3 separate regions of the Homo sapiens genome follow, and all the other regions are linked to region 2. The links come from fine-mapping of genetic effects on gene expression. A gene starts in region 2. Each other region holds a variant in brackets. All regions are shown on one strand. Distances are from middle to middle. Region 1 overlaps EIF4H (eukaryotic translation initiation factor 4H). Region 2 holds the start of LAT2 (linker for activation of T cells family member 2). Region 3 overlaps RFC2 (replication factor C subunit 2).

Region 1 (5,728 bases), 28 kb after region 2:
AAGGTGGCTCTGGCTTTGGAGAAGATAGAAAAATCTAGTTTGGGGCAAACCATTTTTGAAAAGTTGGCACGTTACCAAATGGCAGCACCTAACAGCTAACTGGTGATATAATTCTGGAGCAAAGATACACCAAAGCCCACCAAACTGTTCAACTCACTCGTGCCTCACAAAACCACCAGTGGCTTAATACTCTAGACTTTTCAATAATTACCAAAGTAGTCCTAAATATTCCCATACCCTACCTGATGTAGTCCCTTCTACAGGTCTTAAGCACTTTTTACCTTTTCATCCCATTCAATGAAATCACTAGGGGGCAGCAGGGCTGGGCCATGGAGGTAGACCTCATTCAAGCTAGCACTGGTAAAGTGTCCACTGTGTGACAGTCACTTGAGACACATCACATAGGATGTGAGTACCCCAGAGTACACATCACATAGGATGACATCACATCACATCACATAGGATGACACAGATCTGTTACCCACCGATTCATTTACAAAATCAAATGTCAGAAAACTCTGAGCTAAAATGTCTGCCACCTTTCACTAGATTCAAGTTTGGGGGACTACTACCTAAATAAATAAGCTGTGTTTCGTGAAATTCAGTACATTCCTACACAGATCAATAACAACACATGGGAGAACAGGTTCACTTGACACCTTAGCTAGCTTGATGTAGGACCTCTGCCAAATTACCTCTGTACCTATGTTTTCTTGTCTGTTATATTTCAATCTTGATTTTATAAGTTTAAAACTGACCATAAAAACATTTCCTAAGTACCAAGTGCTATATAATTCTGCCATGCTCCTGGGTAGACCCAACAGGCCTGAGGCTACACTGGGCTGGCAGGAGTGCGTGTAGAACAGGAACAGATCAGCAGAGCGTGCCAATTCAGGACACCTGAAGTCAAGGTCTGTGCTGCAAACTCCCTGCCACTACTGAGCAGTGTCCTTTCTACTGCCCATTAGGGACAGTCTATTGATTATGAAAGATTAAAGTAGTCAATTACAGCCTCAGTAATTTAGGAAACCCTACTTTCGGCTCCAAGTGTGACTAAAATCCTTGACAGGCAAATCACTTTTCCTTACTCAAATCAACCACGTATCTGCATGTCTATGAAGGGTGGAGAGAATGTAGAGAAGGCACAAACCTAAGACTCGGTTTCTGCCCTCAAGGAGCTGATAATTTGGAAAGGAGAAATCACGTCACAAGCAAAGGACTGCAGAAAATCTGGAAGATAGCAATGAGAACAGTTTCACCAGGGTGGAGCAGTTGGGAGCCAGGATATGCAGCACAGCAGAGAGCAACAGAAGTGGGACTCCACTTCCAGATGGCAGATGGGGCCAATACTGAACCCTTAGGGTGAGCCAGAAAAGATCTGTAGGTGTCAAAGGAGACTGAGAGAGGGTAACTATAAAAAGAAGCCAATGTACAGAGTAGATGTTATGAGGGTAGGGATGTATCCAGTAAGTAGATGCAACAGAAAGTTGAGTGCTCAAGGCTGGGCATGGGCATGTGGCTCCGGCCTGTAGTCCCAGCACTTTGGGACTGTGATTGTGCAACTGCACTCCAGCCTGGGCAACAGGGCAAGACTATGCCTCCAAATTATGAGACACATCTCATTTAAACCTCCCAACAGAGGAGTTTCTAGCTCTCATTTGGGGAAAGTAGGGCCCAGAAGGGTAAAGTAGTGTAAACCAAAGAAAATGACTGGCCGGACGCCATGGCTCACACCTGCAATCCCGGCACTTCGGGAGGCCAAGGTGGGGAGATCACTTGAGCTCAGGAGTTTGAGACCAGCGTGGGGAACACGGCAAAACCCCATATCTACAAACAGGTAACATTTGGGTTTTTGACAATCATCAAAAATGGTTAAGCTTTCAAAGGTCAAGCCTTTGATAAATACCATTTATACTACCTATTATAAACCATAGTAGTATAGAGAAGAGTGGTCACTTAAAGAGTAGGTAATGGGTATACAGGTCACTATATTATGCTTTGGTTCGTGTTCTAAATTTTCTACATTTTTCTGTAATGTTTTGCATATTCAAACAATCCAACTATACAAAGTCATCTTTGCAAAAACTGGGAAAAACTGAACACTGGGTACTGGAAAAACTGTTGGTTAAAGAAAAAAAAGAAGCCCTTATCTGTTAGAAACATACTCAAGTATGAAAAGTATGTAAGAGGCCGGGTGTGGTGGCTCACACCTATAATCCCAGCACTTTGGGAGGCTGAAGCGGATGAATCACAAGGTCAGGAGTTCAAGACCAACCCGGCCAACATGGTGAAACCCCATCTCTACTAACAGTACAAAAATCAGCTGGGCACAGTGGCAGGTGCCTGTAATCCCAGCTACTCGGGAGGCTGAGGGGTGGTGGCGGAGGCTGCAGTGAGCTGAGATCGCGCCACTGAGCTCTAGCCTGGGAGGCAGAGTGAGACTCCATCTCAAAAAAAAAGGCCGGGCTCGGTGGCTCACACCTGTAATCCCAGCACTTTGGGAGGCCGAGGCAGGCAGATTACCTGAGGTCGGGAGTTCGAGACCAGCCTGACCAACATGTAGAAACCCTCTGTTTCTGCTCTATCTCTGCTAAAAATACAAAATTTGCCAGGTGTGGTGGCACATGCCTGTAATCCCAGCTACTCGGGAGGCTGAGGCAGGAGAAT[C/T]GCTTGAACCCAGGAGGCGGAGGTTGTGGTGAGCCGAGATAGTGCCACTGCATTCCAGCCTGGGCAACAAGAGTAAAACTCTGCCTCAGAAAACAAAACAAAACAAAAAACAAAAAAAACAAAGAAAGAATATATAAGATACATCTACTACGGTAGCCATAAAAATTGAAACAAAAATTGCTCTAAAGTATGTAATATTTACCAACACAAAGATGAGGATTAAAATTTAAAAAAATAAGAACTATTTTAGAAGGATAGGTGACTAGGATTAGCCTTAAATTATCCTAGCCCACACCTCCACCCAAAAGTAGGGAAGATAGATGTAACAGAAATAGCCAAAATGTTTATGAGGTTAAAACTGGGAAAGGAATGGAGTTGTTTAGTGGGTATAGAGTTTCTGTTTGGATTATGAAAAGGTTCTGGAACTAGATAGTGGCAATGGTTACACAACACTATGAAGGTACTCCATGCCACTAAATTGTACACTTAAAAATGGTTGAGGCTGGGCGTGGTGGCTCATGCTTGCAATCCCAGCACTTTAGGAGGTCAAGGCAGGAGTATCCCTTGAGGCTAGTTCAAGACCAGCTTAGGCAACAAAGGGAGACCCTGTCTCTATTAAAAAAACAATTATTTAGCTCAAGCAGCAGTTCTTTACATTTGTGCAGTCTCTGAAGAAGGCCAAGATGTAATCCTTTGGTCCTATTCTGGCCTGGAGGGCCACACCTTTCTTCCACTCAGCAGTCCCAGAGACTTAAGAGCTGCTGTATCACTGCTGCTGAGGCTTCTTTCGAAGGTCCTCACTGAAGCTGCTCAGCCCTTCCTCCTAAGATGAAGTTTCAGAGCCTGGCCATCCCCACTATCACCTTCTTCTTCATAGGCTCCAGTGTGCTGATGCCTTAAAATATGGTTCCCAGAATGGTTCACAATATTCCACATTTATAAAGCAAAGACCTATACTGATCTCACAACAGGTCTTTGTGTTAATACAAACGAAGGCAGGGGCATCAAACTACATTACTCATGCTTTCCCACCATGCACTTGAAGTATTTAAAATAGGAAGAAAAATCACAGCTTCAATTAGGAATATCCTTGGTAAAGCAGTAAAAATGAATCGTGACCCACTTTTTAGTACCCTATGTTATGAAACACGCAAAGCACTTCTGCTGCATACACAAGCATGATGGCTGCTGCAGGAAAAGCACTTGAGCTACAAGCTGAACTAGCTGTTCTTTCTATAGAACAAACTATGGTTAATTCAGACATGGGTACTAAGTTTTTTAAAAATGAAGTTAAGTCTGTTCCTTGAAGTAAAAGAACAGTATTTGGGTTTTTTGTTTTGAGACAGGGTCTTGCTCTGTTGCCCAGATTTGAGTGCTGTGGTGCAATCACTGCTCACTGCAGCCTCAATCTCCAGGACTCAAGTGATCCTCTAGCCTCAGCCTCCCAAGTAGGTGGGACTATAGGCATATACCACCACACCAGCTAATTTTATTTTTGAAAAGACCAGGTCTGGACATATTGTCCAGACTGGGCTAGAGTGATCCTCCTGCCATGGCCTCCCAAAGTGTTGGGATTACAGACATGAGCCACAGCACCTGGCCAAAATAACAGTATTTGTTGCCAATGGTAAAATTTAAGCTTTCAAGCAAAAAAGAGTTTCGGAAAACCTGTATCCATCAACATAAGCCTGACAGTCTTTCAATACTCAGAGACTTTTCTAACAGCTATGGTGAATGTGACTTTGATACTGTATAACAAAATGTACCAACATCTGGAACATCTGCATGGCTCTGCCTGGCTCAGTGAACAGGTCCTTTCCAAATCACCAACACCTTACAAATGTATGCACTGGTAAAGGATCCAGTCGGAGTACAAGATAAAGTGACTTTTTTTTTTTTTTTTTGATACAGAGTCTCACCCTGTCGCCCAGGCGGGAGTGCAGTGGCGCAATCTGGGCTCACTGCAAACTCCACCTCCCAGGTTCAAGTGATTCTATGGCTTCAGCCTCCCAAGTAGCTGGGACTACAGGGGCCCACCACCATGCCCAGCTAGTTTTTGTGTTTTTAGTAGAGATGGGGCTTTGCCATGTTAGCCAGGCTGGTCTCAGACTACTGACCTCAGGTAATCCGCCCGCCTTGGCCTCCCAAAGTCCTGGGGTTACAGGAGTGAGCCACCGCGCCCAGCCAAATGATGAACTCTAATGTAAAAGTATGAAGAGTTTATTGATAAGGTTTTAGGTTTCACATTGCAACTAACCTTCATAGAAACTACTGCTTATTGAGTTTTGGTATAGAATCAAATATGAATATCCAGAATTATTTGATTACTCCTCCCATTTCCAACTATTTATCTGTGCAAGGATTGAGCTGCTCCATAAAAGTCAACCAAAGCAACACATTCCAAGAGTGGAGACAGATGCAGGTATGAGAATCCAGCTGTGTTCTATTAAGCCAGACATTTAGAAGGCTCCAAAAATGTGAGTACACAGAAGGCTCCAAAAATGTGAGTATACATGAAAGACAGGAGAAGAATGTGCAGAACAAAGGGAGGTGACGGCCCCCCTAGCCCTGAACTGGAAGGCCATGCTTAACCAGAGACTCATCAACCGTGGAGCAGCCACATACTTGAGCTCCTTCAGAAGGTCCTGATCAAGACGGAAAATCACATAAATCATGACGTGGGGAAACTTCGAAGAACATTCGACTTACACAAAAGAAGTCTTAGACGTACATACAGCTGCCATTAGGTTCTATGAAAATGATGCAATCACACTCATTTCATGCCCGGGTGTGCAGGTCTAATCAGCATGATGTAAAAGCAACCAGGCGACAAATACTCTCCTGAACCTTCCAGGGGAAGCTGGAAGCCAGAGTGTGATCCTGGAAAGACATTCAGAGTCTGCTTTGTACGTTCTAAGCTTCCAGGGAGACTCCTTAAAATTGTGAAGTCTTTCCAGAACACTAAGCTTAATTTTTCTTTTTTTTTTTTTGGAGACAGTCTCTCTCTGTCGCCCAGGCTGGAGGAGTGCAGTGGCATGATCTCAGCTCAATGCAACCTCCG
Region 2 (5,728 bases):
TGCCTGAGAGCCCCCCGCCTCAGTTTTCTCATCTATAAAATGAGGTCGGGCTGGGTACAGGGACTCACACCTGTAATCCCAATACTTTGGGAGGCTGAGACAGGAGGATCACTTGAGTTTGAGACCAGCTTGGCCAACATGGTGAAACCCTGTTTCTACTAGAAATACAAAAATTAGCCAGGCGTGGAGGTGCAAGCCTGTAATTCCAGCTACTTGGGAGGCTGAGGCATGAGAATCACTTGAACTCAGGAGGCAGTGAGTTGCAGTGAGCTGAGATCACGCCAGTGCACTCCAGCATGGGAGACAGAGTGAGACTCCATCTCAAAATAATAATAATAATAATAATAAATTAAATAAATGAATAAATAAAATGGGATCAGGCTGGGCGTGGTGGCTGACGCCTGTAATCTCAACACTGGGAGGCCGAGACAGGAGGATCGCTTGAGGCCAGGAGTTCGAGACCAGCATGGACGATGTAACAAGGCCCTGTCTCTACAAAAAAATGAAAAAATTAGGCAGGCGCAGTGGCACATGCCTGTGGTTCCAGCTACTTGGGACACTGAGGCAAGAGAATTGCTTGAGCCCAGGAGTTGGAAGCTGCAGTGAGCCAAGATCACACCACTGAACTCCAGCCTGGGTGACAGAGCAAGACCCCATCTCTAAAAACAAAAAATGAAATTTAACAAACAGTCATGTGTCTGCCCCCAGACTGAATACATCCTGCGCTGTTGGCCGGGTGCGGTAGTTCACACCTGTAATCCCAACACTTTGGGAGGCTGAGGCGGGCAAATCATCTGAGGTCAGGAGTTCAAGACCAGCCTGGCCAACATGGTGAAACCCTGTCTCTACTAAAAATAAAAAATTAGGCCAGGCACGGTGGCTCACACCTGTAATCCCAGCACTTTGGGAGGCCGAGGCAGGCAGATCACAAAGTCAGGAGATTGAGACCATCCTGGCTAACATGGCGAAACCCCGTCTCTACTAAAAATACAAAAAATTAGCCGGTCGTGGTGGCAGGCGCCTCTAGTCTCAGCTACTCGGGAGGCTGAGGCAGGAGAATGGCATGTACCCGGGAGGTGGAGCTTGCAGTGAGCCAAGATTGCACCACTGCACTCCCAGCCTGGGAGACAGAGCAAGACTGTCTCCAAAAAATAAAAAATAAATAAAAAATAAAAAATTAGCCAGGTGTGGTAGCACGTGCCTGTAGTCCCCAGCTACTTGGAAGGGTAAGGCAGGAGAACTGCTTGAACCTGGGAGGTGGAGGTTGCAGTGAGCCGAGATCACGCCACTGCACTCCAGCCTGGACAACAGAGTGAGACTCCGTTTAAAAAAATTCTGTGCTCTCTCTCTGTCTCTGTCTCCCTTTGTGTCTCTGTCTCGCTCTCACTTTCACTCTCCCATCCAGGTTCTGAAAGCAGGTGGGCTGAGGTGGAGGGAGCGGAGGGTGGACCCTCTGAGGCCCCCAGGGGCCGGCAGGGCTGGGCGGGGTGGGGAGTGGGGGCTGCCACAGACCACGGTTCTGCAGAGGCCAAAATAGCACTAAAGGGAAGTGGGCAGTTTTCATATGAACAACGATTGCCAAGAGCTGGCTTCGGGGAAGTTCTCGGGGCTGGGCTGGAGGAGCTACAGTGTCTGAATCCCGCCTGGAAGGACGCTCGAGACCACCCTGCCGGTTCTCCCAGCCTTCTCCGAGCTGAGCTGTGGTTGGGGACACTGGGGTTGGGGAGGGGGCAGCCTGGCTTGAAGCCCTGGATGGCTTTATCCACTGGACTCTGCTCTGGGGTCTGTTGGTTTTTTCATTTAGTTTTTAATTATATTTTTTTATTTTTATTTTTTAAAGAGATGGGAGTCTCACTATGTTGCTCAGGCTGGTCTCCAGCTCCTGACTTCAAATGATCCTCCCGCCTTGGCCTCCCCAAATGCTGGGATTACAGGTTGAGCCACCGTGCCCGGCTGGTCCTGTTGCTTTTTCCAAATAACTCTGGGCTTCAAATGAGCCTAGCTGGGAGGGAGAGAGGGAGGCGGGCGGGTGCAGGAGGGGCCTGAGCAGCCCTGGTCCCAGGGACAGAGTTGAGGGCCAGGTAGGGGGCTGGGCAGGGAGGCAGTGGGGGTTCTTCACCTGACCTGGGGCAAGACCTGGGCCCTGGCCTGTAATCCCACCGTTTTCCCCTGACCTGTGTAGGGGGTTACAGTCCCATTTCACGGATGAGGAAACCGAGGCTCCCAGGCCAGGGCAGCCACTGTTTTGGCTCTCGGCCACTTACTTCACCAGTCTCTGGCAATGATGGGACCACCCTGGGATGTCCCAAGGCTACACAGGCTGGACAGGGGAAGGCGAGGGCAAGAGAGTGGCCAGAAGCCCAGAAACAAACTGACCCCTGAAGTGCCACAGAGCCTGGTGCCAGGGTGAGAGTGGGGCTGCGGGAGGGGGCGCCAGGCATCCAGGCCTCTTCCCACCCCACCCAGTGGGGCCAGGAGCTCCTGGGGGATGGGGGACAGCCTGAGGACTGAGGCACCCCTGGGAAAGGCTTACCTGAGAGTCCAGGGTTCCTCACCACGGCCGCCCCATCCTGAGCCCGCACACCTGCCCAAGCTGATGCCAACACCACTGACACTGGCGGGCGGGCAGGGCGGGCTTCCTGCCAGCCACTGAATCATCCGTACATCCGCCGCACTGCCGGACAGGCTCAGCTATGAAGAGGGCGGTGGGGGGAAGGGAGGGGAGACGGGGGAAGGAGGCGGGAGAGAGAGAGAGAAGAGAAACAAAGTGAGAGGGAGAAAGAGAAGAAAGAGAGATAGGACCGGGCGAGGTGGCTCACACCTGTAATCCAAAAACTTTGGGAGGCCGAGGCGGGTGGATCACGTAAGGTCAAGAGTTTAAGACCAGCCTGGCCAACATGGTGAAACCCCGTCTCTATTAAAAATACAAAATTAGCTGGGCATGGTGGCATGTGTCTGTAATTCCAGCTACTCGGGAGGCTGAGGCAGGAGAATCGTTTGAACCTCAGAAGCAGAGGTTGCAGTGAGCCGAGATCGCACCACTGCACTCCAGCCTGGGTGACAGAGGGAGACTCCGTCTCAAAAAACAGAAAGAAAAAGAGAGAGACACAGCAGAGAGACACAAGAGAACAGGAAAATATGGACACACACTAAACACACACATAAACACAAAAAGTCACACAGAGAGGAAGAGAGATACACTCCAATAGACAGGGAGCAAGATAATGAAACTGAGGTGCTCCTGCAGATGGCAGATATGGAGACACACATACGCTAAAAAGACACACACAGGCAGAAATTCACACCCATGGGCCGGGCGCGGTGGCTCATGCCTGTAATCCCAGCACTTTGGGAGGCCAAGGCAGGCAGGTCATGAAGTCAGGGGTTCAAAACCAGCCTGACCAACATGGTGAAACCCCATATCTACCAAAAATACAAAAATTATCTGGGTGTGGTGGCGGGTGCCTGTAATCCCAGCTACTCGGGAGGCTGAGGCAGGAGAATTGCTTGAACCCAGGAGGTGGAGGTTGCAGTGAGCCAAGATAGCGCCACTGCACTCCAGCCTGGGTGACAGAGCAAGACTTCATCTCAAAAAAAAAAAAAAAAAGAAGAAGACACACACAGGCAGAAATTCATACCCATGGGCCAGGCACGGTGGCTCATGCCTGTAATCCCAACACTTTGGGAGGCTGAAGCAGGAGAATCACCTGAGGTCTGGAGTTCAAGACCAGCCTGGCCAACATGGTGAAACCCCATCTCTACAAAAAATTTAAAAATTAGCTGGGCATGAGATGGACCAAGACACACACAGAGAGACACACAGAAAGATACAGAGAGCCACAGACTGTCAGAGACACACACAGATGGGGAGAGAGCAAGAAACAGGGAGATAGAGGCCAGGTGCAGTGGCTTGCACCTGCAATCCTAACATTTTTGGAGGCTGAGGCAGGAGGATCGCTTGAGAACAGGAATTTGAGACCAGCCTGGACAACAGAACGAGACCCCATCTCTAAAAAAATTTTTTTAATTAGCTGGGTGTGGTGGCACACACCTGTAGTCCCAGTGTTTTGGGAGGCCAAAACGGGAGGATTTCTTGAGCCCAAGAGTTGGAGGCTGCAGTGAGCCGTGACTCTGCCACTGCACTCCAGCCTGGGGGACAGCAAGACCCTGTCTGTCTGTAAAAACAATAAATAGGCCGGGCGTGGTGGCTCACATCTGTAATCCCAGCACTTTGGGAGGCCAAGGCAGGTGGATCACCTTATTTAGGTCGGGAGTTTGAGACCAGCCTGGCCAAAATGGTGAAACCCCATCTCTACTAAAAATACAAAAATTTGCCGGGTGTGATGGTGGGTGCCTGTAATCCCAGCTACTTGGGAGGCTGAGGCAGGAGAATCACTTGAGCCCAGAAGGCGGAGTTTGCAGTGAGCCAAGATCGTGCCACTGCACTACAGCCTGGACAACAGAGCGAGACTCCATCTCAAAAAAACAAAACAAAAACAAAAAAACCCAAAAAACACAACAAAAAAATTTAAAATAATAATAATTATTATTTAATTAATAGCTCAATGGCCTTGGGCAGCTGTTTAATGGTCAATAGCACAAGGCAGTCCACCCACTTGTGGGATGTGGCTTTATTGACCTCAGGTGCCAGAGCATCCTGGCCTCCACAGGGAACTATCTCACTCGGTCCTCATGTCTGTGTGGATGGCAGCCACGGTGTCCACCCCAGGGCTGGGCACAGGAGCACCGCTGGGCAGGAGTGGGCTGTGGTCCCTCTGCCTGTGCTATGAGCCGTTCTCTGCACCCCGATGCCAGGAGCCTCATCTGTGCAGTGGGGTGATGAGACCCCCAAGGCTGGGGTGGAGCAGGGCTCTCCTTCCTTCTCCCACCCTTTAGCGCCCTCGCTGTCTGCAGCCTCTGACACTCGTGCCGTCCACTCCTCCACCTGTCTTTGGTCACTTGTTCCATCTGCCCTGCCCTCGTGGCCTCTGCAGGGGTCTCTCTGTCCCTGCCCTGCCCACCTACATCCCGCATCCTTTGTCTCTGTGTCCATCTGTCTCATCCTCTGGGACTCTTGCTGTCTGACCCTCTGTCTCTATTCCTCGCCTGCTTTTTTTTTTTTTTTTTGAGACAGGGTCTCACTCGGTCCAGAGGTGAAGCTGAATTTGAACCCAGACCCCAAAGCCTGGCTTCCTCACTGGGACCCCCTGACTGGCTCCTCCTCACACAATGGGAACAAGCCTGCAACAGTTTCCCTTCAGCCCCAGACTGTGCACCTGGATAGAGGTTACCTGCTGTTCTTTCCCCTTTTTTAAAATTTTTTTTGAGATGGGGTCTCACCCGGTCACTCAGGCTGGAGTGCAGTGGTGCAATCTCAGCTCACTGCAACCTCTGCCTCCCAGGCTCAAACGATCCTCCCACCTCAGCCTCCAGAGTTAGCTGGAACCCCAGGTGCATGCCACCACGCCCAGCTAATTTTTGTATTTTTTTTTTTTTGTAGAGACAAGGTCTCACTATGTTGCCCAGGCTGGTCTTGAACTCCTGGCCTTAAGCGATCCTCCATCCTCAGCCTCCCAAAGTGCAGGGATTACAGGCGTGAGGCCACCGCGCCTGGTCCCATTGAACCCGGTGTTTATCCCACCTGCTGGAGACACCAGGGAAGAGCATGACGGTCCCCCACCTCCTATATGTCTGGCATTTCAGAACCTTGGCCCCCAGTCCTGGACGC
Region 3 (5,728 bases), 26 kb before region 2:
GGGTAGTAACCCTCAAAGCCAGGCTGAGGAAAAGGTTTCTCACTTACTCTCCCATGTCAGCAAAACATTTTTCTCTTGGGAATTCTTTTGAAAACTGCTTCCGCATCCTGATAACTCCGCGTCTAAATGCCATTTGAGAGATTCACTTCCCCCTTATTTGGGGGAAGAAACTGGGAAGGGCTGTCCAAGCTTTCAGCCTATAGCTGTTTCTTACCAGGTTTGTGGACAACAGACAAGCGATTTTTGAAGCATCTGGGTAGATCTGGGCAGTGAATGCATTTTCGAGGCCACTTAGGAAGGGGAGGCCCGCTCAGAAACAGGGGTGATGGTTCGGGCCCTGTTTTGTCTTGGAGGGTCACTGAGGGCTCAGGAAACCATGGCTTCCACCGGGAAAAGGCAAGGGCAGGTGTGGGTGACCTCTGGAGCCATCAGGAGGCTTTCATTGGGAAGATGTAGGGGTCGACATTGTACCAGAGGCAGAGCCTCATGCCACTGCGGAGAATGCTGCAGGGAGGACGGAGTCCCCAGCACCATGCACCTGCCTGCTGGAGTAGCCTGACCCCTTGTTTAGGGTGTCAGGCTGAGGCTGGGGGACCTTTTGTAGGGAAGGCCAGTTCCTACTCCGGGGTGGAGGTGGGAATTGGCCCAAAAGACCTCCCAGTTCTAAAGTGAATTCCAAGTGGTTCTGGGCAACTGACCCCCCAAGTGATCTAAGACAGATGACTTGTGACTTTAAAGCTGTCCCCAAGTGAGCATCCTTCACAGGCCCTTGGTTGCTCTCTTGTTCATCTGTCTTATGTTTGGGAAATTTATCTTCCTGGTGCCGGAAGCACTTCTCTTTGATGGTGAGAGGAGCATTCCCCAAACTCATCCTGGTTGCTGGAGAATTTGATGAAAACAACAGGTTGAGAAGTTTTACCCATAGATTGCCTGGAAGTCGGTCTGTTGGGGCCTCCCCGCTCACATTGTCCCTTCTAGCCCCTGACCGCCTTTCCTTTCCCTTTGGCCAGGTCTGTGACGAGCCCCACCCACTGCTGGTAAAGGAGATGATCCAGCACTGTGTGAATGCCAACATTGACGAAGCCTACAAGGTTGGCCTCCTTCCCCCCGTCCTGGCAGAGGAACCGCTCACTTCTTGGGCAGAGGAGAGCGGGAGCCCTTCTGGTACCAGGGACATTATACACATCACTCCATTCATTCTTGAAATCTTACTTGGGAGACTGAGGCAGGAGGATTTGTTGAGCCTTGGAGGTCAAGGCTGCAGTGAGCTGTGATTGCGCCACTGTACCCCAGCCTGGGTGATGGTGAGACCCTGTCTCAGGAAAAAAAAAAAATTATTAATATCATGCTATGTGTTAATCTGTCTAGGAACTGGAAAAAAAAAATTATGCTAGGAGTTGGGTGCACTTTACTGATGAGAAAACTGATTCAGAGGCTGAATTCCTTGTCCTAAATCACTGTGTTTGTTTATTTATTTATTTATTTATTTATGTAGAAACAGGGTCTTACTCTGTTGCCCAGGCCGGAATGCACTGGCGCGGTCACAGCTCACTGTAGCCTCTACCTCTCAGGCTCAGGCGATCCTCCCACCTCAGCCTCCCAAGTAGCTGGGACTACAGGCACATGTCACTATGCCCAGCCCTAAGTCATGGTTTAAAAGCAGTAGAACTAGAATTCAAAATGGTGTTTTTCTCCTGTAATTATATCCTCTGCAGGAGAAATTTGTCAGCCAAAGTCAGGAGGAAAGACCAGCCTAGCTCCTTCTCCAGGGAAGCCATCTTCTCTCCAGTTAAGGGGAAGTGTCCCCATCCATTCTCATAGGCACAGGCATTCTGGGATCCAGCAGCCCCCAGCTAGCCAGGAGAGGAGGGAGCAGGAAGATTCTAGCCTCACAATGGGACTGAGTGCTGTGAGCAGATTCCAGCAGATGTGGCTGGGGTTCAGGCGACCTCAAGCCACATGGGTGTGGTGTGGTTGGTGTGGTTCAAGGTCATTGATCCAGTCATGGTTTCCCTCTGCCTACCCCCTAACAAACTAGGTTGGAAGTTGACTGGGTTTAGGGCATAGTTCCACCCAATGTGAAACCGGAGTGCAAGGCGGGGAGACTGAGCAGAGACCCAGGCCCAGGGTCCCTGAGTAGACCTGAAGAAAGCCTTCAGATTTGTGGGCACAGAGCTTCTCTGCCTCCTGAATTCACCCCAAGATGCCAAAACAAAGGCAAAAAGGCCTGCCTCCAGACGCTGCAGCCTGGGTGGGGCAGGGTGGGTGGGAAGCAGGAGGCTGGGATTACCCAGTCAGGGTGTGCTCCAGGCTCGTCCTGCAGAGGTTGCATTGGGACTGCAGCTGGATGAAGCTAGCAGATGAATGGTCTGCTTTTTCCACTTTGCTATACCTAGTCATCAGATTAATAAAGCATTTTAAGAGCTCCGGATCAAGAGATTACATGGGTGTGGTAGTAGACCATTTTGCAACACAGCTTAACACATTTGC[G/A]ATAGGCTGGGCTCAGTGGCTCATGCCTGTAATCCCAGCACTTTTGGAGGTCGAGGCAGGAGGATTGCTTGAGGCCGGGAACTTGGGACCAGCCTGGGCAATATAGCAAGACTCTTATCTTTATATTACTGAAAAAAAAATATTTAAGCAAAACAACAATACATTTGCAATGTTATCTCTCTATCTGCCATGAAAATCAGTTAAGGTACCCCCATGTGACCTGAAGGGTGGGCCCCACCAGCTGTGGTGAGTCTCAAAATCACATGTCTTCTTACAGTTTAAAGTGGTAAGCAGCCTTTTCTGTCTCCTTTGTCTAGATTCTTGCTCACTTGTGGCATCTGGGCTACTCACCAGAAGATATCATTGGCAACATCTTTCGAGTGTGTAAAACTTTCCAAATGGCAGAATACCTGAAACTGGAGTTTATCAAGGTCGGTGAGAATGTAGAAATGCCTCTGTCCTCAAGAATGTGGCCCATAGTGGCCGGGTGCTGTGGGCCACACCTGTAATCCCAGCACTTTGGGAGGCCGAGGTGGGCAGATCACCTGAGGTCAGGAGTTCGAGACCAGCCTGGCCAACGTAGTGAAAGCCTCTGTCTACTAAAAATACAAAAATTAGCTGGGCATGGCTGGGCGTGGTGGCTCATGCCTGTAATCCCAGCACTTTGGGAGGCCGAGGTGGGCGGATCACCTGAGGTCAGGAGTTTGAGACCAGCCTGGCCAACATGGCAAAGCCCCATCTCTACTAAAAATACAAAACTTAGCTGGGTGTGGTGGCAAGCGCCTATAATCCCAGCTACTTGGGAGGCTGAGGGAGGAGGATCGCTTGAACCTGGGAGGTGGAGGTTGCAGTGAGCCAAGATCGCACCACTGCACTCCAGCCTGGGCAGCAGAGCGAGACTGTCTCAAAACAAAAAAAAAAGACTGTGGGCCCTGGCTTCGCTTTCTCTGCTCACAGGCCTGGCATCTAGAAGGTGCTCAGTGTTTCCCAACTGCAGTGGGAGGGAGGCTGTGTCTTAGTTCCTTTGAGTTACTATAAAGGAATACCAGAGACTGGGTAATGTAGAAAGAAAAGAGGTTGATTTGGCTCACAGTTCTGCAGGCTGTACATGTAGCATGATGCCAGCATCTGCTTCTAGGGAGGGGTTCAGGCTGCTTCTGCTCATGTTGGAAGGGGAAGTGGGAGCCTGTGCATGCAGAGACCACCTGTTGAGAACGGAGGGAGGTGCCAGGCTCATTTGAACAGCCAGCTCTCCAGGGACCTAATTGATCCAGAACTCACTCACTACCTTGGGGTGGGCACCAAGCCATTCACGTGGGATCTTCCTCATGACCCAAACATCCCCACATTGGGGACCAAATTCCAAATGAGATTGGAAGGGGACAGACGTCCAAACTAGATCAACGTGGCTGATTGTCCTGAGGACCAAGTTTGTTTCACACAGTTCTGATTTTCTTCATTCAAGGCTCTCTTGTGTATTGACTGATTGATTGATTTTTCAAGGTTAGATTAATTGAGGTTTAATTTACATAGAGTAAAATTCAGCCTGTTAGGTACAGGACAAACGCACTCAGTCATGCAAACACTATCACCATCAGGATGCAGAATCTGTCATCCCAGAACAACTCATGTGTCCCTTTGAAGCCAGCCCCCTCCCCGACTACCACTTGGAAACTACCGATGTAGTTTCTGTTTCATGGGATACAGTTTTCCAGAATATCATATAAATGGGATCATGTAGAACTTAGCCTTGTGAGTTTGGCTTCTTTCTTTCACTGTAGCAGAAATGCCTTTCAGATGTGTCCACGCTGGTACTTCTATCCATGAGTCAGTCCGTGTTATCACTGAGAAGTAATCCATCCTGTGCGTGTACCACAGTTTGCTTATCTGTCCATCAGCTGGAGGACATTTGGGTTTACAGATTGTGGTGACTGTGAATAAAGCCAGTGTAAACATTTGCATATATGGATTAGTGTGAATGCAAATGTTAAGTTTTTCTTTTTCCCAAGTAAGTTCCCAGGGGTGAAATTGCCTGGGAAAATGATAAGTGTATGTTTTACTCGATAAGGAACTGCCAAACGGTTTTCCGAAGTGGCTGCAGCACGTGCATTCCCACCAGCATTCCGGAGGATCCTCAACCTAGCCACCACATGGAGTGCTCAGTTTGGTTTTTAAGCCATTCTAATAGGTGTGTAATGACCGGATGCAGTGGCTTACACCTGTAATCCCAGCTACTCGGGCGGCTGAGGGAGGAGGATCGCTTGAACCCAGGAGGTGGAGGTTGCAGTGAGCTGAGATCACACCCCTGCACTACAGCTTGGGCGACAAGAGTGAGACTCCATCTTAAAAAAAAAAAAAAAAAAAAAACCAATAACAACAACAACAAAATAACCTAATAGGCATGTGATGAGATCTCATTGTGCCTTTAATTTGCATTTCCCTAATTACTATGCTGAACATTTAATCATGTGCTCGTTTGCCATCCAGAATCTTCTTTGATGAAACATCTGTTCATATATACCCATTTTTTAAAATTTTTACATTTTTTATTTTAATTGTACTGTATTTTTTGTTTAGAGATCATGTTAAGACCGGCCAATTTTTATATTTTTGGTGGAGACGGGGTGTCCCCGTGTTGCCAAGGCTGGTCTTGAACTCCCGGGCTCAAGTGATCCTCCCGCCTCGGCCTCCCAAAGTGCTAGAATTACAGGTGTGAGCCACTGCGCCTGGCCTACCTTTTTTATGTTTTTGAGAGACAGGGTCTTGCTCTGTCACCCAGGCTGGAGTGCAGTGGTGCGATCATAGTTCACTGCAGCCTCAACCTTCCATGCTCAAGCAATCCTCCCACCTCAGGCTCCCGAGTAGCTGGGACTGCAGGCATGTGCCACTACACTTGGGTCATTTTTATTTTCTTTTTTTCGTAGAGTTTGGGTGTTGCTATGTTGCCCAGGCCCAACTCTGGGCAAGTGATCCTCCTGCCTCAGCCTCCCAGAATGCTGGGATTACAGGTGTGAGCTACTGCTCCAGGTCTAAATCTACCCATTTTTTAATTGGGTTGTTTGATTTTTATTACTGAATTTATTTACTTATTTATTTTTGAGATGGAGTCTTGCTCTGTTGCCCAGGCTGGAGTGCAGTGGCACTATCTCAGCTCACTGCAACCTTCGCCTCCCAGGTTTAAGTGATTCTCCTGCCTCAGCCTCCCGAGTAGCTGGGATTACAGGCGTGCGCCACCATA

The links.
Region 1: its variant is fine-mapped to the expression of LAT2 in whole blood (TOPMed, PIP above 0.99).
Region 3: its variant is fine-mapped to the expression of LAT2 in whole blood (INTERVAL, PIP above 0.99).

Annotation. Positions count from the first base shown.
Region 1 is chr7:74,178,475-74,184,202 of GRCh38, reverse strand. The region is part of intron 1 of EIF4H (eukaryotic translation initiation factor 4H); the gene reads right to left. Among named protein-coding and RNA genes, the nearest start is that of EIF4H, 7.0 kb to the right of the region's middle. RefSeq lists enhancers at 3,754-4,254, 4,255-4,755. The variant C/T (reference allele first, on the strand shown) is at 2,668.
Region 2 is chr7:74,206,894-74,212,621 of GRCh38, reverse strand. It overlaps LAT2 (linker for activation of T cells family member 2), which reads right to left and starts at 2,616. Exons shown (of 14, transcript NM_032464.3): 1 at 2,534-2,616. RefSeq lists silencers at 1,493-1,582, 2,693-2,742 and enhancers at 1,683-1,802, 3,023-3,132.
Region 3 is chr7:74,232,725-74,238,452 of GRCh38, reverse strand. It overlaps RFC2 (replication factor C subunit 2), which reads left to right. Exons shown (of 11, transcript NM_181471.3): 9 at 1,011-1,091; 10 at 2,808-2,921. Among named protein-coding and RNA genes, the nearest start is that of RFC2, 19 kb to the left of the region's middle. The variant G/A (reference allele first, on the strand shown) is at 2,491.